Homo sapiens: one gene and its partners. The protein of the gene in region 4 interacts with the protein of the main gene of each other region in a pairwise test. Each region holds a gene or a part of one and is shown on either strand. Other genes may lie near its edges.

What was found.
Region 1: the proteins of REL (region 4) and PCYT2 interact in binary tests that used the Homo sapiens proteins (3 or more experiments, as listed by UniProt).
Region 2: the proteins of REL (region 4) and POFUT4 interact in binary tests that used the Homo sapiens proteins (3 or more experiments, as listed by UniProt).
Region 3: the proteins of REL (region 4) and EIF3A interact in binary tests that used the Homo sapiens proteins (3 or more experiments, as listed by UniProt).

The regions. Positions count from the first base shown.
Region 1 is NC_000017.11:81,901,344-81,908,570, forward strand, and holds part of PCYT2 (ethanolamine-phosphate cytidylyltransferase), read right to left. Parts: coding exon 7,225-7,227; intron 6,515-7,224; coding exon 6,430-6,514; intron 6,256-6,429; coding exon 6,211-6,255; intron 5,915-6,210; coding exon of another isoform or gene 5,861-5,914; intron 5,556-5,860; coding exon 5,417-5,555; intron 5,204-5,416; coding exon 5,121-5,203; intron 4,835-5,120; coding exon 4,757-4,834; intron 4,393-4,756; coding exon 4,327-4,392; intron 4,105-4,326; coding exon 4,039-4,104; intron 3,812-4,038; coding exon 3,723-3,811; intron 3,602-3,722; coding exon 3,490-3,601; 3' UTR 1,406-3,489; coding exon of another isoform or gene 1,277-1,405; 3' UTR 1,184-1,276; coding exon of another isoform or gene 935-1,183; 3' UTR 1-934. Other genes in the region: NPB (neuropeptide B preproprotein), read left to right, coding at 935-1,183, 1,277-1,405. UniProt on the Homo sapiens protein: Ethanolamine-phosphate cytidylyltransferase that catalyzes the second step in the synthesis of phosphatidylethanolamine (PE) from ethanolamine via the CDP-ethanolamine pathway.
Region 2 is NC_000010.11:73,767,499-73,775,437, reverse strand, and holds the start of POFUT4 (GDP-fucose protein O-fucosyltransferase 4 isoform 1 precursor), read right to left. Parts: upstream 3,163-7,939; 5' UTR 3,105-3,162; coding exon 2,397-3,104; coding exon of another isoform or gene 2,336-2,396; intron 2,304-2,335; coding exon of another isoform or gene 2,272-2,303; exon of another isoform or gene 2,249-2,271; coding exon 1,623-2,248; exon of another isoform or gene 1,618-1,622; intron 20-1,617; coding exon of another isoform or gene 1-19. Other genes in the region: protein transport protein Sec24C, read right to left, coding at 4,343-4,483, 4,640-4,729, 4,967-5,158, 5,423-5,602, 5,705-5,823, 5,953-6,091, 6,286-6,431, 6,532-6,628 and 1 more. UniProt on the Homo sapiens protein: Protein O-fucosyltransferase that specifically catalyzes O-fucosylation of serine or threonine residues in EMI domains of target proteins, such as MMRN1, MMRN2 and EMID1. Attaches fucose through an O-glycosidic linkage.
Region 3 is NC_000010.11:119,056,755-119,063,981, forward strand, and holds part of EIF3A (eukaryotic translation initiation factor 3 subunit A), read right to left. Parts: intron 4,575-7,227; coding exon 4,470-4,574; intron 4,358-4,469; exon of another isoform or gene 4,229-4,357; intron 4,091-4,228; coding exon 3,992-4,090; intron 3,385-3,991; exon of another isoform or gene 3,257-3,384; intron 2,965-3,256; coding exon 2,848-2,964; intron 2,644-2,847; coding exon 2,458-2,643; intron 1,550-2,457; coding exon 1,202-1,549; intron 287-1,201; coding exon 182-286; intron 100-181; coding exon 1-99. UniProt on the Homo sapiens protein: RNA-binding component of the eukaryotic translation initiation factor 3 (eIF-3) complex, which is required for several steps in the initiation of protein synthesis.
Region 4 is NC_000002.12:60,912,442-60,919,668, reverse strand, and holds part of REL (proto-oncogene c-Rel), read right to left. Parts: intron 2,793-7,227; coding exon 2,652-2,792; intron 1,479-2,651; coding exon 1,374-1,478; intron 1,276-1,373; coding exon 1,063-1,275; intron 1-1,062. UniProt on the Homo sapiens protein: Proto-oncogene that may play a role in differentiation and lymphopoiesis.

The DNA of each region.
Region 1 (7,227 bases), on a different chromosome or scaffold from region 4:
AGCCCACTGACTCAAATGGGAATCTCCTCTGGCAACACCCTCACAGACACACCCAGTGACAATACTTTGCATCCTTCAATCCAGTCAAGCTGACACTCAGCATTCACCATCACACCTGGGAAGCATGGAACCCAGAAACAAGTGCCAGGGCTCCAGTGCCAGTGCCTGTCCTGGGAAGATACCCAAGAGAAGACATGACCAGGACCTTGGGGGAGCATGAAATGGTGAGGGCACAGTGAGCTTGAAGGCTGATGTCACCTGCCAGGAGAGCGGCTGGCAGTCCTGCCTGGTGCCCCCCAAGGGGCAGAGCTGGCAGAGAGGGGCCTCCAATCGAAGGCCAGGAGTCGTGGAGCTCCAGTGCCTTGGTGTGGCTGGCCTTCTTGCCCCCCTCCCAGAGGACCCCGCCAGTAACAGCCCTGCTGGTGGAACCTTCCCCAGTGGGCATGAAAGAAATGAGGGCCCCACAAGCCACATGGACTCTGATGCCTGGAGCCAAGAATACCCCTTAGGGTGGTAGAAACCGCCCCCGGGGCACTGTGCAGTGTGGCTGGCTCTCCAGCATCAGGAGTACTGGGGATTGCCTGGGGGACGACTCCTAGGGCTGGGCGCCCGTGGGCCCTCCCCTGCTGCCACTGCGGCCCACGCAAGCCGGGCCTGAAGGGCGCGAGCGGCATGGGTGGGGAGCTTGAGGGGGCGTTGGGCTCCCACCAAGCGCCAGATCCTTGCGCGCCTCCAGCGCTCGCCCGCGCGGCTGGTTCCTTTGGGATGCGGAGGTGCGACGGCTCCTCCGCGCGCGCCCGCTGCACCCCAGCCCGCCCGCCGCCCCTCCCGGCCCTCCGCAGCCTCGGCCCGCCCTCGCCGCAGATATAAGGCGGCCCAGGCGGTGGCTGCTCCGAGCCCGGACGCCGCCGCCCACCAGTCAGCCGGCGTCCCCATGGCCCGGTCCGCGACACTGGCGGCCGCCGCCCTGGCGCTGTGCCTGCTGCTGGCGCCGCCTGGCCTCGCGTGGTACAAGCCAGCGGCGGGGCACAGCTCCTACTCGGTGGGCCGCGCCGCGGGGCTGCTGTCCGGCCTCCGCAGGTCCCCGTACGCGCGGCGCTCCCAGCCCTACAGAGGGGCGGAACCCCCGGGCGGGGCCGGCGCCTCCCCGGAGCTGCAACTGCACCCCAGGCTGCGGAGCCTCGTGAGTCCGGCGTGCCGGGGACTGATGGGGGGCGGCGGCAGGACGTGGGTGGGGGTGCGGCGGCCCCTCAGCCTTTGCTTGCCTGCCCCCCAGGCTGTGTGCGTCCAGGACGTCGCCCCAAACCTGCAGAGGTGCGAGCGGCTCCCCGACGGCCGCGGGACCTACCAGTGCAAGGCGAACGTCTTCCTGTCCCTGCGCGCAGCCGACTGCCTCGCCGCCTGAGCCCGGACCTCTCCTGGCACCGCTGGGGGCCCCCCGCCCCCACCGTCCCACTCGGTGACCCCAGGCCCCTCCGGCGCGGGATGGCGCCCCAGGTCTCCCCTACTCCGCTCACCCCGCAGTTAATGGCAAACGAATAAATAAATGAGGCGGCCTCGGAGTGAGGGGTGCTGGAGGACTGGCAGCCAGGCCACGAGGGGAACGGGACCTGGAAATCCCCAAGCCTGGGTATGAGAAGGCAGCCGAGTGTGCGGCGGCAGGGCAAGGTTGGCCTGGGCCGCCCAGAGGTCTTCAGACCCAGGGGCGAAGCTGGCCACGACCCAGCCCCGCGGTGAAGCCGCGCCTAGCCTTGGTGCTCCCTGGGGGAAGTGCAGGGCCACGGCTGGCCCGGTTCCCAGTGTCCTCCCCCAGCCCTTCGCTCCCCAACTCGAGAGCCAAATCTGTGAGGGCATGGGCTGGAGCCCCTGGCTGCCTTCCTCTTGCCCCCATCCCTTCTGGCCAGGCCAAGTCCGAGGGTGCAGGGGCAAGGAGGAGAGTTGGGGGCCTGAGCCCTGGCTCCAGAGGCCCAGAGCATGCCTCCCCAGAGCTGAAGGTGGGAGATGGGTAGGTTCTCCCTCCGCCGTTGGGTGTGACTCCGGAACTGGCTTGGGCTCTGGCCTCCAATGCTGCTACGGGGCCAGGCCCACCTCCGGGCCCAGGCAGCAGCACTGCAGGGCCTTTCTACCCTCCCCAAGCCTGGGGCCCAGGCAGCCCCTGTCCAGCACCAATCTGTCTATGGGGAACTGGCTGGTCCCTCTGCTCAGGGGACCCCGCAGTCCAGGGTTCTGAGTGGGAGCATTGGCACCACCCCACTCCTGAAAGCGGGGGCCTGGCAGGATGAGGATGGCCTGTGCCCCCCACACCTTGGCCCCTGGCTCGGAGAGCAGGGTGACAGGCTGCCTTCCTGGGCTGTGGAGAGCCTCGCGTGCACCTCGCCTCCAGCTCCTGTGCTGGGTCGTGAGGTCGACCTCACAACAGCAGAGGACAGGCCCATGGGGTGCCACATGGGCCAGGTGCTGTAGGGCAGAGGCCATTCTGGAGAGGAATGTGGGGCTGAAAAAAGTACTGATCATAAGCCTCATTTTGAATGCGGCGAGACCAGGCAATCTATGGCCTCCCTAGACACCTCCCGGAGGCTGCAGTAAGAACCTCTTCGGCCTCTGGGCTGCTCCAGGCGGGCCGTGACAGGGGTGTGGGAGACAGAGATCCCATGGCCCCTGGAGGGGCCAAGGGGCAAGGAGCCTCAGCTCTGGCTCTCCTCCTTATTCTAGCATCGCCTGCTACAGGGGGTGGCCCCAGGCTTTGGAGGGCTGGAGGCCTGGGTTTCACTCACTGCCAGGCTGCCCGCTGCACTCCCGGCTGCTGGGTGCATGGTGGGGGCAGGGCCAAGAGGGTCTCCTTGCTGAGTGGTTCCCTGGTCCTTCCCAGCAGGGCTGGGAGCCCCGCGCAGCACTGCCACCAGGCTTTATTCGGTTGTACCAAAGAGATTTCCGTCAGCCATGTACAAACAGAACAGAGTCCATAAGGAGAGTGGCGAAGCTGCCGGGAAGGAAGGCAAGCGTGTTTTCCTGGAGCCAGGCGCTGGGTGGCAGGACACCGTGTTGGGGGGTGCCCAGTGGGAGGTGGTGTGGTCTACACCCAGAGAACTAAAGGGGTGACCGCAGTCACTGCTCCCTAAAGCCCTCTGCTCTGCACCTCCCGCCACAGCTGGGTGGGCAGTCAGTGTGGCCTCTGTCCAGGTGGTGGGGGCATCCGGGGACCAGGTGGGGGCGCACGCAGGAGCGGTGCGTTTCAGGCTGCAGGTGCCGTCTGCCCGTCTCACTTCCGGCCTCTCCACTGTGCTGGACACCCTCTCTGAGCAGCTTTGCTGGAAAGAGCGGAGAGCCTGCTGCAAACCAGGCACCTTGTAGGCAGGCAAGGAGGCAGAGTCCTCACCAGCCCTTCCAGAGCCAGGCCAGTTAGAGAGGGCGGCCCTGCAGAGTCCTATGTCCAAACGCAGAAGGCGCAGAAGCAGAGCAGGGGGAGGGCCGGCCAGGGCCTCTGCCAGGTTAGAAGTCACCATCGCGCTCCCCCAGGGGCTGTGCCGCCTGCTGCCTGGCAGCCTCCAGGAAGGCCAGCTCCTTGGCTTCCTTCTTCTGGTTTCGCGCCTCATACTCCAACCTGAGAGGGCAGGGTAAGTCTAGCAGAGAGCGCCCATGAGGCGGCTCCGAGGGGGAGGGCACGGTAAGTCTAGCGGAGAGCGCCCATGAGGCGGCTCCGAGGTGCCCCCACCCAACTGCACCTGTTGGTGATGATCCGCTGGACGATGAGGTCTGTGGTGAGGTTGCTGCCACTGTCAATCTGACGGAAGATGCCCCTTCTCTTGGGCTCCTGGGGGTCCAGAGAGGAGGAGCGGGATGAAGGTCCCTGCTGACCTCCCCAAGACCCATCTGATGCCCTGCCCCAGAGGGAGACCAGCGCCCAGGGTCCCATGGGAGTGGTGCAGTCGGAGCAGCTGCGCCACCATGCCCGTTTCCCAGGCAGGCACAGTGAGTCATTAAATGGCTGGGAGGTGCCAATGGCAACCCCTGTGCCCAGCAAGGGCCAGCATGACCCACCTGGTATGGGTCGGAGCCATCCCTGTCAGGGATAATTTCTGTCTTGCCGTGACACACCAGGTCCACCTGGAGAAGGAGTGGGGTCAGGAGCCCTCCCCGGGGAGGCAGCGGCCGTCGCCACCCACAGCCCAGCACAGGCCCCGGGGGTTGGGAGAGCTGACCCTGCCCTTTCCTCAGCCCAGGTACCTCCTGGGCCCCGCCTAGGAGCCCACAGCCAGCCTGCATTCCCAGCCCATGCAGGAACAGAGGTGAACAGAGGGAACGAGGTGAGCCCATGCGGAGCCTCACCTTGAAGTGACTTAGGAGCTCTGCTGTGACCGCGTACGGGGCTCCAATCACCACTTCTGACACGTACTGTGGGGACAGTGGGGGCAGAAAGACTTGCTCGGTCCCTGCTACTGGTAAGCCAGGGCCACAGGGTGGTGAGAGACGGCTCAGACATGGGGCGGGGCTGCCAGTGAGTAGCAGGGATGGGCTGGGCAGGCTGGGGACCCCTGGGGCTCCTCCATGAGACAAGAAGGAACAGCATCTGGAGACCTGACCACCCCTCCTCATGCCTCAACAAACAGGTATGGGCAGGTGCCACAGAACTCGGGGTGCTGGGTGCAGCTCTGCCAGTGACCCAAGCCCCCCTGCCCTGGCTCAGGGAGGCCCTTAGTAGGGGGGATGTTGTGGGAATGTCTCCCCATCCTTGGGCTGGCTCCTGGCCCCCACTCACCCGGCAGGCCAGCACGCTCAGAGTCCGTTCATGCAGATTCATGATGGGGTAGTTCTTCCCCTTGTAGTGATTGACCTCCTGCGGCCAGAGTGCGGCTAGCTCAGCCCGGAGACTTTTTGGGGGGACAGGGTGTGCCCCTCCCGGCTGTCCCTCATGGGAAGAAGTCGGGGAGGTTGCTCGCCCTTGTGGGGATGCCCCAGACAGGACAGCCCTGGACCCCAGAAGCCTACGATCACCCCCCAGGGTCTCCTGTGACTTCACCTGGGGCCCCTTCCCAGAGACCACCTGCACCTAACAGCAACGCTTAGGGCCCCTCGAGGGCCCATCAGCTGCCCAGGGGCCCAGGGAGCAAGAAGGCAGTGACCTGGTCAAAGTGTAAGCCCGCGATGATGTAGGGCCTCTCTGCCAGCCTGTGCACCTTCTCCAGGAAGTCCACATGCCCGATGTCTGCACCCAGGTTAAGAAGCAGTCGGGATGGGGATGACAGGGAGCAGCTCCCTGACAGCTCATGCCCAAGGGCCTCCCCGCCATCCTCCCTGCTGACAGCTGCTCCCCTGCAAACCAGCCAGCCCAGTCTGGGGGCCCCAAGGAGTCAAGTGAGGCCCCCGGGTCCCACCCCATGTGGCACATGTAGGGGAGCAGCAGAGGCCCAGAGGATACGGAACAGGTCGAAGGCACCAGCCACATAGATGACTGTCTCCCCTGGCTGGGGCTCCTTCCCAGAAGCAAACTGGATGATCTTCTGAGATGTCTGCAGGAACTGGGATACCCCGGTCCAGGGGTTCCGCCCACCAGGGCACTGCAAGCCAAGAGAGGGAGCAGGTTGGCGGGGGAGGCCTCCCAGGTGCTGCCCTCACCAGGTCACCAAACCCTCAGCTGTCACCTGCCAGCAATCCCATTTCCAGCCAGTCATCTCGGGCAGGGGACACACTGCCAGGCCAGGTGGCAGGTGGGACTGTGGCGCCACCCCACAACCACAGCAGGCACCGCAGCAGACACCACTTCAGCCCAGCAAGCGACCACCAGGAGGAGGCAAGGAGCCCTGTGGCAGGTGCACACAGCCCTTGGGAGGGACCTGGTACCCTGAGACCACTGTCTGGTCACCTGGGAGCAGCCTTCTGAGGAAAGTATGTCCCCGGCGGGTATCGGGTGAGGGGGCTACAATGGGAGAGAGGGCCAGGCCACTTGGTTAGAGGCCACCTGTCCACAGGCAAATCCTTGCTCCTCCAAGCAGTGGCTGCCGTGACCGGCCAGCCGGTGCCACCACCCGCCTGCCCTCCCTCCCAGCATCCACCAGTGAGCCAAACCTGGCAGTCAGTGCCTGGTCAGTGCCAGGGACAGAGGGAGGAGGGTGAGGCTCTGGGCTGGCCTTTCCCCAAGGGATGGCTGGGACAGGTGGCCGGGGGAGCCCCCTGCAGCTGCGTGCTCAGCTCTCCCTGCACAGCCGCACTCACCTTGCCAAAACTGTCTGCATACTCCCGGTACTCAGAGGACATCTCCTGCACAGAAGGTCAGAGCAGGGCTGAGGGGCCTGCCCTCCCGGCGTGGCCACCCCAGAACCGGCTGGGGATGGGGAGCAGTGGGCAGGAGGACCCTGAGAGGGCAGGGAGGTGCCCCTCCTTTCCCCTGGAGACCTCGACCCAGGGGCCTCGGGGATTCCGCCGCCGACTCACCTGGCTGCTGTGATGGGCTTTGGTTACCAGCAGCATGCGGCCCACGAGGTCTGTGGTGGACACCCCTTGCGTGCGCTTGCATTCTCTGGGGGACACAGTGGGAGTGGGGTCTCATCCTGGGACACTCGCAAGGCTCTGCCTCCTGCTACCACCACTAGGGACACTAGCAGCCCTGCTGTGGCAGAACCCACGGCTGCCCCAAAGACTGAGGGTCCCCTTCCTGTGCAAGGCCATAACAGAAAACCTGGGTTGGGAACATGGGGAAGGCCTCCACGCTTTTATTGACTGAAGGGAGTGGCAGGAGCACAGAAAAGGACCCTTGCTGGGGCCCAGGTGTGCAATGCCAGGGAGAGGATGGGCACTGGGGTAGCAGCTCTGCTTCCTGCCTCCCTCACACCCACGTCCTGCCCGCTGAGCATCTGCAGCTGAGTGAATTCTCAGCTGCAGCATCTCATGCGGGAGCCACTGGCCTCATGTCCCTGACGTCTGGTAATTCAGATATAGTGCCAGCTCCCCAGCAGTGCCAGCCACGTCCCCCGAGCTCAACAGCTGCCACCTCACAAAGCTGTGCCTTTGGAGCCCTGGGGCCATGGGTCTGCAGCACCAAATGGCAAGGGCCTCCAGGCCACCCCACAATGGCACCTCCATCCCTCGAGTTCCCAGTCCTGGGCGTGAGGAACATGGCCCAGGGCCTGGACGCTCCCCTCACGGGCTCCCGGTAAATAGCAAAGCACGAGCCAGGAGGGAGCCCCGTGTCCAGCTCCCTGGATGGCCAGGCCCGCGGTGGAGACTCACCTG
Region 2 (7,939 bases), on a different chromosome or scaffold from region 4:
TCTAACTTGGACAAGACTGCTGTGAAAGGAAGACAAAGTGAAGTAAATCCAATATAAGCCCAAGCGACAGGCAGTAAGTCACAAACACAAAGACATCACACAGACTACCCAATCAATTACGATTCCTGACTTGCCTGCTTCTGGCTCCCAAATGTGGAGGGGGTTCAGAGGCAGGCAAAGCAGAGGCCAGACTGGAAGTGGCAGTCTCCATAAGGAAAGCAAGGGGGCAGGGGTCTTTAGATGATTATCTTTTAAGTTTCACCTTTATGCCAATAATCAAAATGAAGGTGCATCAAAATGAAGTAGCATCCAGTATCTAGAAAAGACATAACCTGAATATTTATTTTCTTAATGTTTCATATTTTTTCATACTTTTCCTCTAGTAAATCATATTATGTTCAGATACAAACAATTTGTAATTAGATACAAATTACTTGGTGAAGGATTCCAACCATCAGGACAAAACTGCCAGCAGCATCTGTTAATAAATGGCCTTCTGCTGCCATCCACTGTCCAAGTCGGTTTCTATAGGCCATTCTAGCAGCCTTACTTCAGCTTAATAATCTTATCACCTCTCCCCCAATAGGTGTGGCTTGCTACAAGTGGTTTCAACATTTTCCCACCCCACACCACACGCTGGCCTTGTTTCCCAGTACCACCACCTTTTGCCACCTACTACAGTAGCCTATTCGCTTCCCTTCTGATGCGCATTGTGCATTGTTTTGTGTGTGTGTGTGTGTGTGACAGGGTCTTACTCCAACCCAGGCTGGAATGCAGTGGCACGATCCTAGCTCACTACAGCATTGAACTCCTAGGTTCAAGCAATCCACCTGCCACAGCCTCCCAAGTAGCCAGGACTACAGGTATGTGCCACCACCCCAGGCTTTTAGTTTTTAAATTGTACAGAGAGGCTCTTATTATATTGTCCAGGCTGGTCAATATATTATATTATATATTATATTGTCTCTGGCCTCAAGTGTTCCTCCCCCCTTGACCTCCCAAAGTGCTGGGATTACAGGTGTGAGCCACCGTGCCCGGCCATGCCTAGTTTTTCTAGTTACACAGGCAGTGTGTCCCCACCTGCACCAACTACATGGGGCTCATCCTCAGCACAGCCGCTTAAAAAAAAAAATTATGGCTGGTTAACAGGTGTAACCCCTGACTACTGCAGAAAAGCCTCTCTAAAAGTGCTCTTCTCTACTGCCCAACCCCATTTCCACTCTATAAAAGGTGCTCAAATAGCTGAGTTGATTTTTAGTGCAGTGCAAACTCCTGAACCTGGTATTAATGATATTTATAGCCTTGTCCCTATTTATTTGCCCCATTTTCTCTCTCCCCTGTCTGCACAGGCCCTGTACTCTGGTTCAATCTTTTTGAACCACTACTGGAAACATTGTTCACATAAGCTGATTTTCATACGTTGCCTTGAATTATATTTTACATCTATTCAGCTTTTTCAGCTTGTCTTATCCCCCCAACTAGACTGTTGACACCTTAAATACAGAATGAGCCCATGTGATAATTTCCTCCTGCACCTGCTCAGCACCTAGTGCTACTTAATTGCCCACAGTAAGCAAGTAAGTAAATGATTTGATAGCTGCAGGGGACCCCAGCACTCTTACCTGTCATTCTCAGGAATCTCTTCCACATTGCCAAAGCCAGGTGTGGGCACTGGGCAGTCCATGTGTGAGGGCTGGGCAATGTGGGGCTCAAAGACGGGGCTGTCCCCGGGAGAGGCCGCGTGGGCTTTCTCGGCATCCAGCCGAGCCAGTTCGTAGTCACAGACGAAACACTCGAAGCCGTTGAGGTAGTTAGGCAGCAAAGGATCATTCACTCCCCACTCCCGATGCTTCAGACTATCCAGAAGAAATTGGTTGGTGATGCCCCCAGGTTGCTTGTATGCCAGGTATTTCATATACTCCTCATCATTCTTGTCCAGAAAGTCAATAAACTCTGCCAGCTTCTGAGGAGACTCAAAATCATCAATCAGGATGACGGAGTGATTGTTCGGCATCCAGTCCCTCACAGAGGGAGAACCGCGGTACACGGGCACAGCGCCCAGGTGCATGGGACGCCACAGTTTTTCTGTCATGTAGTCGTTACAGATGGCATTTTCCAGGGCCAAGTGGAACTTATAGCGGGACAAGAAAGCCAAGAGCTCTGGATCCTCGGTGGTGGCCGTGGCTGTGTCCTGTAGCCGCGCGGTAGGCAGCTCCCGATTCTGCAGGCATTTCCCGTAGGAGTCTACCTAGACCGGGTACAGTAAGGCTGTCATGAGGGTGCGGCCCTGGAGGCCTGGACACCTGGAGTCCTGGACACCTGGAGTCCTGGACACCTGGAGTCCTGGCCTCAACCCGCCCTCTCCTTTTCCTTCCCTCCGGCCCGCCCTCACTCACCGGGATGTGGCGCATGAGCTCGCGCACGTAGCGGTCCCGGTCCGCTGGCACGTCGCAGTGTGACTGCAGATAGAGCAGCGGCGCGTAGCCGCGGCGGCGCCACTCCGCGCGTTCCATGGGCGGAGGCACCGGGCGGCGCAGATAGGCGGTCCCGGGCAGCCACTGCAGCGACAGCGGGTAATCCGAGTGGCGACTGAAGGTGGAGGTAAGATTGAAGAGGCGGATGCCCGGGCCGTGGCTCAGCAAGAAGTTGTTGAGGGGCGACTCCTCGTGGAGGAGCGCCCAGCTCTGGTGCGCCAGGCGCGGCAGCGGGGCGGCCGACGCGCGGAAGTCTGTGCCGTAGAAGAGCAGCGCGCGCGTCCGCGAGTCCCTCAGCGCTCGGCGGTTCCGGGACGCCACGCACGCGCCGCGCGCACACTCGATGCGCTCCGAGTCTCCCGGGAAGTGGGGGAATAGCCCTGGGCTCCACCACAGCAGTACCGGCAAGTCCCCCGCCTCCTCCCTCCCTGGCCGCGGCGTCCCAGAGCTGCGCGTCACCCCCACTGCGCCCAGCGCCGAGGGCGGCCGGAAAACCGCGCCATCCCACGGTTCCGCCCACTCCGCCTCCCCGCCGGCCTCCCTCTCCGCTACGGACCCATGGCCGCTGGCTGCACAGACACTGAGCACCCCTAGAAGGACCAACACCACCCTAATGGGGCCGGCCGCCATGTCCACTCCGGCAGCCGGCGCCCCCTCGGCCAGCACCGACCCCGCCCAGCGGATAGTCGTGACCGGACGAGGCCCTACGCCACGGGGGCACGTGGCGCATGCGCAGCTCGCTCAGCCGACGGCCAGGACTAAAAGCAAAGTGAGCTTTCGGGAGTAAAGATGAGGCTAATGGTTACATCTTAATTTATTTTATTTCTTTACAAATTAAAGATGCATTGAAAAATAAACCAATGAAGAGAAATGAGAGGTCCAGAGCAGGGGCATCCCAGGTGGGGAGCAGGCAAGCCTGGCCACCATCAAGCCTAGCCCTTGTCCTGCCCCCAAGCCAGTTGGGGTTGGAAGATAACTGTCAGCCACTCAGTCAATACCAAAGCCCAAGCGGTGTCCCAGCAGGAGAGAACGGCGCTCCAGCTGCCTCTGCCTCTCTCCCCAACAACCCCGGGCCTGGAGAAGCAGTGTTTCTCGTGGGAGCTCAGAGTGGGATGTGAACTGGCTCTGTGAGGTATTGCAAGTTGATGACCAGGCTCCCTAGGCTCCCTACAGAACCATCCAGTGTTGGGGCCTCTCCAGCTGGAAAGGAAGCTGGTACCTCTACCAGATCTTAATATATTTTGCAACTCAGTTCTCCGGTCACCTCTGACAGTGTGCCTCTCTATCCACGGAGTGATCATCAATCATTGCAGGAGAGAGCGAGCGAGCAGTGAAAGCAGAGAAACTTGACTGCTAACCTCCAGGCCCAAGAAGGACTGACCACTTTTCTCTCCACCACCTATGGGCTATACCCCAGCTCTTGTGCACCTATATGTTTTATCCCTAATATAGGAAGTTGTGGATGACACTGAGCCCCCTGTAGTAACCTTAGGATCCCCACTCTTTCCTGCCTGCCCCTCTCCTCTTGGGAGACTGGTCCAAAGGGACACATAATATTGCCAGGGTCTGGGTGCCTCCAAACCCCCAATACCGAATCATATACAGTGAACTGAGAAGCTACATTCATTATGACAGGATTAGCAGGAAAAAGAGGGTAGAATGAGGGAACAGGGGCACCTTCCATCAGCAGGACATGACAGAGTGGCAGGATACTTGAGCCCAGAAAGAAGGTGTCTCCTTATATCTCCCCCTCCCCCCAGAGAGACTGAGGTCAGCTTACATAAGATATGTTACTGTCCCAATTTCTCTGACATCCTGGGGTGCTTTCTGGAAGCTAGCCTGGGCCCTATGCCATTTACCCACTTGCTTTAGCTCAGTAGCTGCCGAATCTCCTTGTGCATATGACAGAGAAAGTCCACATAAGATGCTCCCCCACTCAGACTCTTGTCTTCCACCAGGAAGTGCTTGAACAGCATCTCCATCTTGTCTTCCTGTTTCACCACGGTAAGCTACGGCCAGAATTCAGGGTTCATAAGGCAAGGCCAAAGGAAATTAAACATGCCCAGAAATCTCATTAGGCAGTCACTTACTCATTCCCCACCCAACCCCCACTTCTAGGTGAGGACTTGACAAGGTAAGAAATCCAGGGTTCAGATCAGTGTTACCTTCATGTACCGGGATCTCTGTGCCCGTAAGCTATCAATGAGGCCTCGAACCTTCTTGGACAGTGGATTATCCAGAACTGGCAGAACACTCTAGAACACAAAATTCATTTATCCTTATGGTAAGGCACTCTGAGTTCAGTCAAGGTGGGGCAGCATACATGTATGCATCATCTGAAACAGGCAAACCTGGGAAGAATGACAGCAACTGCCCTTGTCCCCAAGTGTTCCCTGATATTTGAGGGTACTAGCACACTAACTATATTGGCTCCCAATTGTTTCACAAAGTATACTTCCACACCCATATTCTCCTTGACTCCCTGCCCTCACCAAACCACTGGTGATCTGACTGAAGGAGGAGACGCTGAAAAGGCTCTGGACAACACCCTGTTGGACGCTTGCTCCCACCCAGAGGAAGAGGTTGAGCCCATTCTCCAGTAAATATATATCCCCATTGCTTAGACGCTCTTCAGAGGCTCGAACTGCTGGTGGTTCGGTAGTACTCTCAACGGGAGACTTTGTCTAGACAAAAGGAAGGGAGCAAAAGGTTACCAAGGACCATAAGACAAGTCTGCCCCCCCGCACCACACACAAAATTTTGAAAGCTAAGTCCTCAGACACCACCCCTTCTGGGGTCTCAGTAACTCTCTCAGTGTGAAAATTACATCAGCTAAAATACATAAAAACAAATTCCACTAGTGTCTGACTGATACTAGCCTATCCTTTCCTCCTCCTAAGAGGCCCTTTGCTCCGTGCAAGATCTCATACTCCAACCCTCAATCGCACCAAAGGTAAGAGCCGAGGGTAGAAGAAGACATTGGTCTCAGTCACATCCATGGAGGTAACTAGCTGTCGGACATAGGCACGGTCATCAGTAGTGACTTCAGCTCCAGGCTGCAGGACATCACTCTTCAACACACAGTTCAGGTAAACTGGGAGTAGCTTCATGCACTCAGGAAGGATCAACTGAGGGGATTATCAAAATAAAGTCAATGATCATGAGAAATCCCTCCCAAATGCAAACATTTGTCCCAACAACCCCACCTCCCACTAATATACTTGCCCCACCTGTCCTGCAGAGGAGGGGCTAGCACAGTTCTTTCTGTAACAGGCCAGGATCTGGGCACACTGGGTGATGAGCGTGTCACGAACAGCCTTCACAGGGCTATTCAGGACTCCCCGATATGCTGGATGGGAAAGCAAAGATAGTCACTGGTCAGCTGCCCATCATGTGTGCATTCCCACCATCACAACTACCCACTCACCATCCTGGACCTCTCAGCCCCAATCCCACCCTGCCCTGCTTCTACCCTCACCAAACTTGGCCATGTAGTTGATGAGCGTGTCAGTCTCACAGTTTCGATATAGATCAGCCAGCTGGGTGCAGCAGTTCAGGGCCAGATTATGGATGCGGAGCCGACGCTGCCCTGCACAGCTGGTGTAAAGCAGGGCACACTAGGGGAAAGGAGAAAGGGGGAACTCACACCCCTCCCTCACAAAGGCCCTTTGCTACACTATTAAACTGGAAGAGAGAAATGAGCCACTCCCGTGCCCTGTCTCTTCTTTTAGTGCTCTCTACCCATTCCTCACCCTCTTCTATACCAAGCGAATGAAACACTTCCTGCCCAGCCCCGCCTCCCGCCTGCCACCTGCAGGAGAGCTCCGCTCTCTTCATTGAGCCGATCGTCATGCTTGAACTCCACAGTCACTGTTTTGTCCCCATCTAGCCCAGCCAGCTCCACATCTGTCGTGTTGCTCATGTAGAAAGCTCCAAAGAAATCTACAGCACGGATACCTGAGGCCACATGGACAGGGTCAGGGCAAAAAGTATGACAAGTGCCACATGCCTCCCTTCCATATTTAGCCCCCCAACCTGCTCTTCAATCAGGACTGACCAGTGCTTGTCCGGACCCGCATCACAGCATCAAAGCCAACAACCTTCTGGACATCACGACGCAGGTCACTCAGGAACCGCTCCTGGTCGTTCTCCACCTGCAGGCCCCCAGGTCCAGAGTCATGTCACTGACTAGACATAGCTCATCGTGCAGACAATCTCCCTGTACCCCTTCCACTCTACAAGGCCACCTAATTATCATCATCATAACAGTGAGGATGATAATGATGATGACAATAATAGCTTTTAAACACTTAGACTGCATGCCAGGTACCACACAGAGTGCTTTACATATAATTATTTAATTCTGTTGACAAATCCTACTTAAGTATTTTAACACCATTTTGCAGATGAAGGAACAAAAGAGGAAGTACTTAAGAAATTTATCCTAGGTCATGTAGCTAGTAAGTGGTGGGGCCAGAATATCAATGCAGGACTGATTCCAAGGCCCATGTTCCTAACTGCCACATTCTCGGGCTCACTTCTTCAGACTATGCAGTCTTCTCTTCCAACACTATTTCTTCTTTTTTGGAGACGGAGTCTTACTCTGTCGCTCTGGCTGGAGTGCAGTGGCGCAATCTCGGCTCACCACAACCTCCACCTCCCGGGTTCAAGGGATTCTTAGCTTCCTGAGTAGCTGGGATTACAGGCGCCCGCCACCACACCCGACTAATTTTTGTATTTTTCGTAGAGATGGGGTTTTGCCATGTTGGCCAGGCTGGTCTTGAACTCCTGACCTCAGGTGATCTGCCTGCCTCAGCCTCCCAAAGTGCTAGGATTACAGGTGTGAGGCACCGTGCCTGGCCCCAACACTATTTCTATTAATGAGTCAGCCACTGCATATATAAGCAGATATTCCCAGCCCTGCTGCCACCTGCTGCCCCAAATCCCACACCATACCTGAAAGGAAGCATATTTGTAGACAGAGCCACCAGTGAGCTGGGGCACAACAGAGAGTGTGGCCACATCCACATACTGGTTAGGGAAGAGAAAGAGATCTACACAGCAGCCTTGGGCCACACACTCTTTGGCCAGGGTCTGATAGGCACCTGTCTGAGGCTGGAACAGAGTCTAGGGGGAAAGAAAATGGGGAGAAGAAAATGTTCAAATATCTCAGCTCCGCCCTATTTGAAAACTGTATATCTAGCATGGGATATTCAAATTCATGGAAGACTTCAGATCTACTTCCAAGGATTTTCCAATAGTAAAAAATTTTCTTTTATATTATTTTTATTTTTTTGAGACAGGGTCTCACTCTGTCACCCAGGCTGGCATAGAGTGGCATGATCTCAGCTCACTGCAACCTCTGCCTCCCAGGTTCAAGCGATTCTCCTGCCTCAGACTCCCAAGTAGCTGGGATTACAGGTGTGTGCCACCACACCTGGCTAATTTTTGTATTTTTAGTAGAG
Region 3 (7,227 bases), on a different chromosome or scaffold from region 4:
TTGCTCCCACAGATCCATGTCTTTAATTCTCTGTTCCTCGTAAGCGCTCTTTATCAAAGGAATTTCTTCCAAACGTTTGGCTCTTTCAAAATAGTCAATCTGAATGACACGAAAACACACGTAGTTTTAAAAAATCTCTCTTAACTTGGTATGTTAAAGGTTTACCAACCCTTTCATTTACCTTCTTTTCTTGATTCTTTAGGCGTTCTTGAAGTTCTTTCTTTTCTTTCTCCAGTTGTTCAACCTGTTTAGCCATGATAAAATCTGGATCCAATTCCTCAAGGTCCTGAAAGGTAATACAAATGCACAATTGTTAATAAAGAGAAACAAGCAATGCCTAACATAACTCACTGCTTTCTAGAATAAAATCCTACATTGCTTTTATTGTTACAATGGGTGATAATTTAGGAAATGTAAAAATATTATACAATAGCCTTATTTCCATTTGACCATAAGGAAAAAAATATCCATACATCCTTTTCTCACTACTCCAACCTACATCTACCCAGACTCTACTAAATAGGGTAAGCAAACCTAATCCAAAAACCCAAAATCTGAAATGCTCCCAATTTTAAAACTTTCTGAGCACCAACATGGTGCCACAAGTGTAAAATTCCACACCTGACCCATGTGACAGGTCAGTCAAAATGCATTCAAAACTTTGTTTCATGCACAAAATTATGTAAAATAGTGTACAAAATTACCTTCAGGCTATGTGTATAAGGTGTCTATGAAACAGGTCATGTGTGGTGGCTCACACCTATAACCCCAGCAATTTGGGAGGCTGAGGCAAGTAGATCACTTGAGGTCAGGAGTTCAAGACCAGCCTGGCCAACATGGTGAAACCCTGTCTCTACTAAAAATACAAAAATTAGCCAGGTATGGTGGCAGGCGCCTGTAATCCCAGCTAGTTGGGAGGCTGAGGCAGGAGAATCACTTGAACCCGGGAGGCGGAGGTTGCAGTGAGCTGAGATCACGTCACTGCACTCCAGCCTGGGCGACAAGATAATACTCCGTCTCAAAAAAAACACAAAACTTCACAGAGCAATAAACATATGCTTACTCACAGATTTAGTCATGACCAGCTGTACCAAAATGCATGAAATAACCCAGTAAGCCAACAAATGGTAAAGGACTGTGGTTCTAAGAGTACAAAATACCTGGATAAAACTAATTTTTTAATAACTAAGATGCTACGTACTTCAATATCAATATCTTTGAATGCTTTGGCACCCAGTTCTGTTTTCTTGATCTGCTCCAAACGCTCTCGGACAGTTTTCTTTTTGATTTGTTCATGTTCCTGTAAGATACGCTCCTTCTCTCTCTCCTTTGCTTCCTGGCGCAGCCTCTCTTCCTCAGCCTTCCGCACTTTCTGGAGTTCAGCTTCCCTCTGTTCCAATTCTTCTTTCTCACGCTGAATATTCAGACTCTCAAGGCGCTCTTTTCTCTCCTCAATTGTCTGGCGGCGAGCCAGGATCCGCTGGTGCTCTTTTCGTGAATTTTTAAGGTATGCAGTGACAGCCAACTGATGCTGTTCTTCTTTCTCTTGCTTCAAAAACAAATGAATTTTTTTACATGACCAAAATTAACATTCTCTGGTATTAGGCATCAAAGAAATTACAAAATAATCCTGATGTACTGCCTTTCTATGTATCTGCATTTGATAATGGAAGATGACACTATCCAAGCTGTTTGTTTTCGGTATTAAATGCTATGGTGTTGCTCCTATTCAGTCTTTTAATAGCAATGACGCAGCTAAAGAAGCTCTCCTAGATAAGACAACTTTTCTCTGCACCAAACCTACCTTAGGTGTTCATTAACAGAGCTCACATACAAGAAATAACTTGTTACAGGCAGTGGCTCATGCGTGTAACCCCATCACTTTTGGGAGGCCAAGGCGGGTGGATCACTTGAGGCCAGGACTTTGAGACCAGCATGGCCAACATGGTGAAACCCCATCTCTACTAAAAATACAAAACATTAGCTGTGCACGTGGTACGTGCCTGTAGTCCCAGCTACACAGGAGGCTGAGGCACAAGAATTGCTTGAACCCAGGAGGTAGAGATTGCAATGAGCCGAGATGGCATCACTGCACTCCAGCCTGGGTGAGAGTGAGACTCCATCTCAAAAAAGAAAAAAAAGAAATAACTTAAGCAGGAGGGAAAAATCCAGTCACTGTATTTCACTATTTGAGGAATCCTATGTCCACTCTGTTGTTTCTGTAACATAATCCACCCTATTACATTACCTACACAGAGTAGTATTTTGTTCAATGGAAGAAAGCTCAATGATTTGTGTATTTGATCAAATAACAAAACTACCAAGTACAATTCTATAGGAAACATATCATAAATCCCTTCTCTCAGATATTGTCTCAAACCTTTTTGTAAAAGACATGGCATGGCGTTAAGAGTCCCTCAAAACTTCTGGGATTTATTTCCCCGGGAAGATGCATACCAGTATATGAGCTGGTTTAATGACTTCAAGTGCTTTTGCAAGTACTGAGGACATGGCTGTCAGCTGGTTTCTTATCTGCTCTGAAGGCATGCTTTGCAAATGAGGACCAATCGGAGCATCTTCTCGAGTAGCATAATTCAAATCAGATCCAAAACTCAGGGTCCGAGAAGTGTGATCAATACGAACCTTTGAAAATTAAATTATCAATGGTTAAATCCACAAGTAAGCATGAAGTCAAAAAGTAACAGAAGAATGTCATATACAAAAGCTGGAAAAGTTCACTCAGTAAACTTTAAAATGGTATCACTGTACCAAAAGCTGAGAAACAGAAGGTATGTGTCTTTCTAGCCCTCAAGGGCCTTCTCCTGTCTCCTTACAGCACATACCTACCTGCAAGTCGCAATGCCTGGCTGCATCTACTATGGCCCGTTCCAGTTGGAAAGCATCAACAAAAGGAACCAAAGAAGTCAAACGAGAAAACTCAATGCTCTGATAAATCTGTGACACCTGCATAGAAAACAAAGGGTTAATAACACTAGCCACTGTTTATTCAGCACTTTTTATGTGCAATCTCATGACAGTCATGGGAAGTAGAAATTATGCCAGAGAATTTATGTTAGCAGTACATTGTTAAAGCCAGAATGCTAATCCCAGACCATCGACTCTAAACTCCATGCTTTGAGAACCATTATCATACTATTCCTCAAACCTATAATCTTTTCAAATCCTAGTTGTTGTAAAACAAAAAAGCCTAAAAACCTGCTACTTACCGAATATATTTAAACACTTCTTATAGAATTTTTGTCTGAAGGAGACTGGCAGCATTACTATTTATAGTTATACTGCTAATTAGCCTTCAATTATTTGTATAGCACATAAGAAATAACACTACTCACATAAAAGAAAGCAGGTCAATGAAATGTGCACAAATACTGAGATGAAAATATAATAAAACGCCCTCCTTCCCAAATGCAACAAATGGAAAACAAAATGGGAGCACTTACTGACTTAAGCCCCTGGACTAAAATATATGAAAAGGCTGTCTCATTCACTCATGGTGGGGGGTCTATTAATCCAGGCTTCTGAATAGCTATTAAAGCTTTAAATCCATAAACCCTATGACTAATTCCACTTCTTATGCCACAGAAAGTAATAGAAGTATGCAAAGATACATGTATGAAAGATGCTCAATGCTACAAGATTTCTAACAGGGAAAAAAAAAATCTAGGAATACAGGTTTTCATCAAGAGAGTCTGAATAAATACACCACAGTACCTTAAATGGAATAAGGTAGCCCTACATTACTAACAAGGAAAAATGCCCAAAGACAGTGTTCAGCCAAAAAACAAAAGCGTCCGTTACAAAATATGTAAATATAATAATTCTGATTTTCAAATTAATAAATAGACTAATTTTTGCCAGGGGCAGAACTTGGGGAGGTTCTCACTTCCTAGGCAGTTCTAGATTTTTCCAGTTTTTAGTTTCATGATGAGCACATAACATCACAAAACTTTTTTTATTTTTTTATTTTTACCTGCTGCAGAAGGCGGAGGATGGTGTTGTTTTGCAGTTGTGGCACATACTGCTGCAATTCCGGTTCCTTTTCAGGTTGTTCCCTAACCCAATTTAGAACCTATAAAATCCATTAAATTGAAAGAGAATCACACTTTCTACATAAGAGATACTAAAACATCTAAAACTCTTTTTTTTTTAATATACAAAAACATCATCCAATGCAAAGAAATACAAAATGTATCATGAAGCTACTGATACTTGTTTGAAGGTGACTGGCAGCAATGGCTAAATTAGTCATGCTGCTAATTAACCTCCAAAGGTTTGCTGAGCACATCAGATATATCTTTTCTCTTGAAATAAAGAAAAAAGACAATGAAATGTGCACTGAATTCCAACACATAGGACAAAACTTCTCTCTTAACAAATATGAATACAACCCAAAACTGCAAGAAGGCCAACTCTGTGGTAACAACCAGAACTTAAATACAAAGGCTTACCTTTGTGACTCGCTCACAGAGTTTTAATGGGTTAAATTCTACTTCAAGCCAATTGTAAAGGTCTTTCACTTCTGGGACAACATATTGTAGTACATTAAATCTGACCTACAGTAAGCAAAACAAAAGATGTAACTGCCAAAGGAAATTTTCCAACTAAAATTCTGAACTTAGTATAAATGATAGCATTGGAAATCTGGAAAATGATTTAAAAAATCATCAAGCCTCAACCTCCTCTAAATTTACCAAAAATGAATCCAAAGTACAACTATGCTGGGTCTTTTGCCCCACACTATGCACATTAACCTACCGTGAAAAGCCCCACAAGTATGTAAAAAGGAAATGAAACTCTAAAAAACACAACTACAACCAATTAAATATTCACAAAGACAACTACTGTGGCCAATAGAATATTTTATTACCAATAACAAGGAAAATACCAGTTTTACTTTTATATAAATTATCACACAAAAATTATCATGGCAGCACTATTTCTAATAGCCCCAAACTGGGGAGAATTCACATATGGTGTATTCATAAAATAAACAAAAATGCTCAAAAAAGAACAGCTACATAGAACACATGAATAAATCTCACAAACATAGCGGTGAGAAAAGAATTTCACATATTACCCCATTTATATGGACTTCAATTTTACCATGGAATATGTCATTTTTTTTAGGAACTGTTAACCCAAGGACAAAATAACTGCTGGGATAGAGCAAAGCACAGAAGTGTGTACCCATAGAGAGTGGGTGACAAAACTGAGGCAAATATTGGCAGATCGCATCCCCAAGCAAGGAGGGCACCCACACATGGGAGCACTCAGGTCTAAGGTTAACTCTAATGTAAAATGGGTACAAGGCTGAAATCCTACAACATTCTAACACTTCCTCCTTATAAGCATCCATATATCTTTACTGCAATAAGGTGTGGTATATGCATACAAATAAAATTCCCTAACTTAGAATCTGCCTTTAAGAGAAAAAAAAAAATTCCCAGCTCTAATTTCATTCCTATCAAGTTATTTTAGATTCTTCATGCAGTCCCCTTCCGAATAGGGAAATGTGAAAGGCTGCCATAATCTACTAAATTATATTTCTCACTAAAATACATGATTGGTTTACTTTCCGATTTAAAAGTCACTCTTAGGAATGTTTGAGTCTTTTCCTGAGATAATGGAATCACTCTGTCTCATAAATTTGGTTATGGAAGCCTAACGCTCAGGTATTGACCTTGGATATATGGTCAACTCAAGAAGTTGACAAATGCCTCTTGGCAGTCAGCTAATCCATTCACTTGACACTAACTGGTATCCTTCTAGAAGTCTACACTCTGTGGGCACAATGAGGACTCTAATCTAGATGCCCTAGTTGTTGGTCCAATGCTACCCATCAGTGATCACCGAATGACTTGCTCACAGAGTTTTAGTGGCTCAAATTCTACTTCCAGCCAATTGTAAATGTCTTTCGCTTCTGGGACAACATATTGCAGTATATTAAATCTAAGTCTAAGAGATCACCTTTTTTTTTTTTTTTTTTTTTTGAGATGGAGTCTTGCTCTGTCACCCAGGCTAGAGTGCAGTGGCACGATATCAGCTCACTGCAACCTATGCCTCCCGGGTTCAAGCGATTCTCCTGCCTCAGCCTCCCGATTAGCTGGGATTACACGCATGCACCACAATGCCCAGCTAATTTTTTTTTTTTTGTATTTTTAGTAGAGACGGGGTTTCACCACGATGGCCAAGCTCGTTTCAAACTCCTGACCTGAAGTGATCCACCCGCCTTGGCCTCCCAAAGTGCTAGGATTAGACGTGAGCCACCGCGCCTAGCCAAGATCACCTTTAACAAGGTGACGTGGATTATCCTTCCAGTGTGGCACGTTTCTTCAGCTTTAAAAATTAGAAGCAAATTTTTTATTAGCAAATGTTTTATTTGCTAATGAAACTTCTTTCTCAAGACACTGCTGTTGCTTTATTACATTGAGTCCTACATCGGCCCCATAAACAGAAAGTTGAACTCTGTGGGCAGTGGCAGCAGAAAAAAACATGGAGGAATACAAAGTAGAAAAAAAGCTGCTCTGCAGGAACTCTTTGCAAAAGTTAGCTACAAAGTGAATCTGCATTACTATGTCACAAAGGAAAAATGCCACTATCTAGAAAAGTTATTTGTTCTTAAATTGACTACTGCAGAAAATTTAGGCCTTTTATCTAGCTTTTATCAGAGTGAATATAGGTGTTTCCTCAGAATACATTTCAAAAATATCTGAGAGAGCCTGCCATTATCTTTTTGATTTCTTTATTGCTCTATTCATGAATTAGGGACTGTTAATGATTTAAATTCCGTTTTTGGTAAACATACAGCCAAGTACTTATCCCTCTTTCTCTTACCCCAAAGTAATCTACTGGAGGTGATTCTAATAACCAAGTCAGACTATTATGATAAGAATCCCTAGAATCTCAGCTCCCCTAGAATACAACTTCTGCCTTCAGTTTCACTTGCTAGGCACATAACAGGCACTCAACAAATTTCCACTGAATGGAAGATTCCATCAATGCGAAACACTAAAAAGATACACAAATCTGGCCGGCACGGTGGCACACCTGTAATCCCAGCACTTAGGGAAGCCGAGGGGGATCGTTCACTTGAGGCCAGGAGTTCACGACCAGCCTAGCCAACGTGGCAAAATCCCGTCTCCACTAAAACTACAAAAAACCACTGTAGTGGTGCGTGCCTGTAATTCCAGCTACTTGGGAGGCTGA
Region 4 (7,227 bases):
TGAATCACCTGAGGTCAGGAGTTTGAGACCAGCCTGGCCAACATGGTGAAACCCCATCTCTACTAAAAATACAAAATGAGTCGGGTGTGGTGGCGCATGCCTGTAGTCCCAGCTACCTGGGAGGCTGAGACAGGAGAATTGCTTGAACCCAGGAGGCAGAAGCTGCAGTGAGCCAGGATTGCGCCACTGTACTCCAGCCTGGGCAAGACAGAGCAAGACTCCATCTCAAAAACAAAAAAACAAAAAAACAAAAAAACCCCACAAAAATTAGCCAAGTGTGGTGGTGCGCACCTATAGTCCCAGGTACTCACGAGGCTGAGGTGGGATGATCACCTGAGCCCAGGAGGCTGAGGCTCTGGTGAGCCACGATCATGCCACTGTACTCCAGCTTGAGTGACAGAGTGAGACCCTGTCTCAAAAAAAACCCAAAACAAGCTGTTTAAAATATTCATCTTGTTTTCTTATCACACAAGTCAATAATGTCAACTAATGCAATAAGGTTTGATAAGAAACCAATATAGAGACTACTCTCTGAGTGGTAAGTGCACAAAGACTAAAACAGACCTTCAAAAATAAAATAGAAATTTTAGTAAGCAGTTTAGATACTTTGAAATTATTCCATACTAATCAAACCTCTTCTTGAAGAAAGAGATGCAGAGACCAGCCTAGCCAACATGGTGAAACCCTGTCTCTACTAAAAATACAAAAGTAGTAGCCCAGCGTGGTGGCACGTGCCTATAGTCCCAGCTACTCAGGAGGCTGAGGCAGAAGAATCGCTTGAACCCGGGAGGAGGAGGTTACAGTGAGCTAAGATTGCGCCACTGCACTCTAGCCTGGGTGACAGTGAGACTCTGTCTCAAAAACAAAACAAAACAAAACAAAAAACAACCCAACAAATAAAGAGATGCAAAGAGCATAAAGAAAAAACCAACAGAAAGCTTCCAGGAAAAGAAACATAAATTATGAATATACATAACTGTACTCAAATGAATATTACAAGAAGATGTTATTAGCAGGACCACTTCAAGAAATATATAAATTATTACCAGCAAAATGTCATACCTTTTTCATCTGGCAGATATCTAAAATCCATAGATTCACTAACTTCCTGGTCAGAAGGTCTCCGCAACTGCATTTTTACTGTTACGGGTTCTGTGATAGCTTTGCAATATGGTGGAGTTTTGAAAACAATGGCTACTTGACGGTGTACATCAGCTTGTGAAAAGATGCCTTTTGCTTCCCAATCGTTCAACACAAAACGAACTTCTATGTCATCTAGTCAATAAGAAACCAAAAAAAAAAAAATGGGAAAACAAAGTAACTGCATCTATTAATCTAAAATTTATTCTAAATTCAATGAAATAAATAAATACCTTTCTGAACTTTGTCACAAAGTAGAAATATTTCATCTCCTCCTCTGACACTTCCACAATTCTTGTTTACACGACAAATCCTTAATTCTGCAGTATTTGGAGCACCTAAATATAAAGGATTTTCAAAAAAATGAGTTGCTACCTTAGTAATATTTTATTTCTTTTTGCAGGGAAGAATTTGAGGAAAAGCATTCACAGAATAAAAGTTTTAGTGTATAGATAAATGACACTAAATACATTAATCATCTATTTATCTGTCCACTTCCTTTCTAACTGCTTTACTTTAGACTTTGTGGCTTCATTTCTAGGTAATGACATATTCTCTAATTACATCTCCCTGCTTCTAAATTCTGATTCCGCCAATCAATCCTACCCACTGTCACCAGATTAATCTTCATAAATCATGACCACATCCCCATGGCAATACAATTTTCCCTATGGCAATACATCTCCCTATGGCAATACAACTTTCATGCTTCCTTTATAGCCCTAAGTCTCTCTATCCTTCTACACATAAAACAGGTATATCATACACCATTGGTGGACGTATATCTAAGTCTATGTACACACACACACACGTACACACACACACACACACACACACACACACACACAGTATTTTGGGGGAAAGTTTCATAATCTTTCAAAATGAGATATATCCATATCCTTTGAGCCAGCATTTGCCATGCAGTGAGCCATGACTGCACCACTGCACTCCAGCCTGGGTGACAGAGTGAGACCCTGTCTCCAAAAAAAAAAAAAAAACCAATAAAAAAAAATATACAAGAATATGTATTGCAGTACAGTTTGCTAGGCCAAAAAGAAAAAATGAGAAAAGAAACAAACCAAATGCCTTGTAAGAGGGTAATTAATAAAATTATGATATAACTACATAATAAAATATGCTGCTACTGAAAAGAATAAGGTGATTAAAAGGAAAATGTCCAAGATATATGGTAAGAAGAAAGTTAGTTTTTAAAACAATCATCACTTATGATTTTAAGTTGCCAAAATTGTACTGTGTCAAAAATGATGATGATGACAATGTATCTGTGTATATACAGGAAGAAGAAACTGGTAAAATATGCACCTAAGGATAGTGATTATCTCTGGAGGATGAGATTAGAGAAGATTTCCTTTCTGTTATATATTTCTCTAATGTCTGGAAGTTTTCCTATCATGAATATATTGTTTTCCTAATTACCAAAATAATTTTAAGAATTAAACTATTACAAAAAACAAGTTAAGACTACAAATATAAGAAAATGAAGTACTTACGGTTGTCATAAATTGGGTTCGAGACAACAGGAGGAAGAGCAGTCGTCAAATTACCATGTTCATCAGGGAGAAAAACTTGAAAACACAGTCTCACCACATTGAGGTCACAATCTTCAATATCATTCAGCTGTTTTTCAGGGACTGAATAGAAAAAAAAAATTTTTTAAATGTAATAGTCACATAGACCTAAAGACTTGCTAGGTCCTCCTCCCTGCCCATTATAGCCAATAACCTTGAATAGCATCCAAATATGTATGAATAAAAATAGAACAGTATACAATCTCAAGAATGCCTTTTATCATTCTTATCAAGTAATCACTATCTAACAGTATTTGATAAATTATAGCCATGTTCAGGAAGTAACTATCCCCTCACCTGGGATTTAAAGCAAAATCCCAAGTTGACATTAATAACAAATCAAAGTTTTAAAAAATAGTTGCAGGTTTGTACACAACAAAGAATGGCATTTACCCATTCATTCAACAAGTATGTATTTGGTCCAGTTGTTGTGTTAAGGACTCTGTAAATTATCTCCTAAATCTGTACAAGAATTACTTTCATCCCCATTTTACAAACGAGGAACTGAGTTTAGTTCGTTTTTTTGACATGGGGGTCTCACTCTGTTGCCCAGGCTGGAGTGCAGTGATGCGATTTTGGTTCACCTCAACCTCCGCCTCCCAGGCTCAAGTGATCTTCCCATCTCAGCCTCCTGAGTAGCTGGGACTACAGGCACATGCCACCACGCCCAGCTAATTTTTCTATTTTTTTGTAGAGATGGGGTTTCACTATGTTGCCCAGGGTGGTCTCAAACTCCCAGGCTCAAGTGATCCACCCACCTTGGCCTCCCAAAGTGTTGGGATTATGGGCGTGAGCCACTGAGCCTGGCCTGGAACTGACTGTAAAGAGATGAATTACTTGCCCAAAGTTTCACAGTGACAGGGTGGAAATGTGAACTCAAGTCATTAAATTTAGAGCCTATGCTTTTAAAAATTGAAATCTATTAGAAAATTGTACATGTGTTGTACATAAAAATGACATACACAAGAGTATCTACTAAATGTGGATCAACATTTTAAGGATGAAATACCAAGAAACAAAAAAATGTTAAGATAGCTAGTTTCCATAAGAAATTTTACGTGCAAACTTAAAAAATGTTTTAATTAAAAATTTTACAGTTCTATAAAACTAGAAAAGCTCATGATAGAATATAGTATAATAGTTTGTTAAATTAGTATTTGAACCAGAAATCCAGTTCCAAAAGAAAATATTGCCTTTTCAAATGCCATAAGCTATAGCAATAAGTCATATTTTTAAAAAGCAAGACATGCACATTATTTACATAACAATTTTACTTTGCAAAGTATTAAATTTTGAAACACTAAATTTAGAAACATAGTTAAGCCCAAATTCCTTATTTTACAGGCAATAACTAATAAAACTGATAATGTATTTTGTACTGTTTTTATTTAATGACATTGAGAGTCTACTTAGCTATCACAACATTTATAAGTATCCCAGTATTAGCATTCTTATGCTTAATCTTTGAAACAGTGCATAAAAACACATCTGTACTCTGTACAACTGAAAGGTCAAAATGTTATGATACCAACACTTGTGTTACAGCAGCATACTCTACTGGCACTATTGTGTAGGCAATATGAGAGCTACCTCTTCAAAATCCATTTTTACAGCATTATAAATGTAGCATTCAAGATATTAGTGTCTCTCAATTGCAAAGATGAGTAATCAATATGCAAAAAAGATAAATTTGTAGCTAGATGTTCCTGGTAAGTTTAAAAACAAACCTATGTGAACTCTGTGAATGGATAAACAAAGTGTGGTATAGACCTACAATGGAATAAACTCAGCAATAAAAGAGAACAAACTGGCCAGGCGTGGTGGCTCACACCTGTAATCCCAGCACTTTGGGAGGCCGAGGTGGGTGGATCATGAGGTTGGGAGATCGAGACCATCCTGGCTAACACGGTGAAACCCCGCCTCTACTAAAAATACAAAAAATTAGCCAGGCGTGGTGGCGGGCGCCTATAATCCCAGCTACTTGGGAGGCTGAGGCAGGAGAATGGTGAACCCGAGAGGCAGAGCTTGCAGTGAGCCGAAATTGTGCCACTGCACTCCAGCCTGGGCGACAGAGCAAGACTCCATCTCAAAAAAAAAAAAAAAACAAAAAAACAAGCTATGGGTATACACTCCCAAATGAATGTATCTCAAAACCATGTTGAGCAAAAGAAACCAGATACAAAAGTATACTGTATGCTTCCATTTACATGCAGTTTTAGAAAAGATTAATCTCCAGTGACAGAAGGCAGATTAGTAATTGCCTGAGGCAGAGGCAGGGTAGGGAACTGAGCGAGAAGGGGACCAGGGAAATTTTAGGGGGTGATGGAAATGTTCCATAGCTTGATTGTGGTTATGTAGCAGGACATATTCGGGTAGATTTTATTGTATCTCAATAAAAGTTTATTTTAAATATTTTTAAATGGCACATAAAAGAAAAATAAACAAACTGGTCAATAAGCCAAAGTTCAAAAACATTTAGTCACATAATAGTTCTACTACAGGGAAGAAATTCTACTTACTTCTCAAAAAAAATCACTGTTTATGAGATTTTGCTTTGAATCTTCTCAATGTGTGGAAATACAATTACTACTGCATCAGAATTACTTTCATCTCTGCACAACATGGTTAAAAACTACTGACAGGCAAGAATCATGACAGATACCCGTTTTTACCCAATGCAAGATTCAGTGTAAGGCTGAAACCCCAGCTCAAAGCTTCTTTTCTATAAAGCCTAACTTCATCCTCTGCAATGGAGGGAATATTTCTCCTCTCTAAATCAGTGCAAGACTTGACCTATACCTTTCTTATGCCCTTAAAAGTTTTAAAATCTTACATGATAATCATTTATGTATGCCTCTTCTATCCTATTAGACAAAGTTTCAAATGAAGTCAGAAGGGATGTCTGATGTATCTCCACTAGGTGTTGAACCTAGTAGTGATATTTATTATACATTTTCTCAATTAACATAAATGACTGAAGAATTACTTAAAGTCCTATTGAACAACCAAACATTTAGATACTTTTACAAGTTACTGAAGAAAGCATAAAGTAAACGTTAATAAAAAGAAGTTCTACTTTGGTAATGATAGATGATAATCTGTAAACTGGACCAATTCAACCATGAGAATAAAGTGGACAAAATATGAAACAAAATTTCTCTAATGACATTAGAGAGCTAACAAGGTCATGAAAAACCATGCGACCAAGATATGAGAGAAGAAAACCCACAGTTCAGAATGAGAGGCCACTTTTATCTGAATATAGCCTGACAATTTTCTAAGAGATGGTTAAGAAGATTGAGATGAACTCTCAATAAACTATAGGGAAAAAATAAAGGAGTTGAGAGTTTGCCAAGGATGTGGGATCTGATAAATACCCAAGGCTTTGGGGGATTTGAGGTCTGAAAGAGCTATACCCTAGGAGTAAGGGTGAACTGGAAACATATCAGATTTCAGGGATGAAAGCCCAACTTCAAATAACCTAAATCATTCACTGATTTTAGGTGACCTGGGATTGCTAGTGTACCCGGCCACTAGCCAGAAGAAAATTTTCTGCAGGGAGATAATATTGTAGGCCTAAAATCTTTACTCTTTTTCACAGAAAATGACTGGTATTTTATCTTAAATAACCACACATATGAGGAGGCAAAATAAAAAATTTTTTTTTAAAAGAAAGCAACAGGCAATAAAAACATACCACAAAGGATCCAAATAATGAAGTTTTCAGACATATAATTTAAAGTAACTATACTTAATATATTCAAGGAATTAAGATTGAGAGTTTACTGGAGAACTTGAAACTGAAAAAAAGGAATCAAATTCTAGAACTGAAAAATATAATAAATTGAAATTAAGAATATAATCAAATTTATCAAAAGTTTTATAGAAAACACTTTGTGTCTTGTCTTTTTATACCTCAAGGATTAAAATGTTTACCAACATAGTCTACCAAAAGTTTTTAAAATGTTGATTCACTTTTAAAGCCTTTAATCCATCTTCAGCTGATATTTGTATATGATGTGAGGTAGGGAATCCGACTTAATTAAATAACTATTTTTTTTTCAAGCTTCATTTCTCAAACATTTCCTCCTTTCCTCTTGATATGACATGCCACCTCTGTCATACACTAAAGTCGCATATTTCCTTAGCTCTGTTTCTGGGCTCTCAATTCTTTTTTCAATAATTATACATTTTTATTTTATCTTATAAAAATTGGGTGAATATGTAGATTTAAATTGACAAAACTGTGTATTGAACAGTTTTGTCTTTTATAGCTTAGAAGAAAGATTTTGGGCAAAAATGAAATCTCTCTTTTGGAAATGATTTATTTCTATTTTATAATACTTCTGAGCACTGTTGCAACTTCAGAAGATCTTTTATATTTTTAATTTCAAATCTGCTTATATACACAGTAAGTCTTCACTTAATGTCTTCTAGGATGATGTCTATAGGTTCTTGGAAATTGCAACTTCAAGCGAAACAACACCATAATAAAACC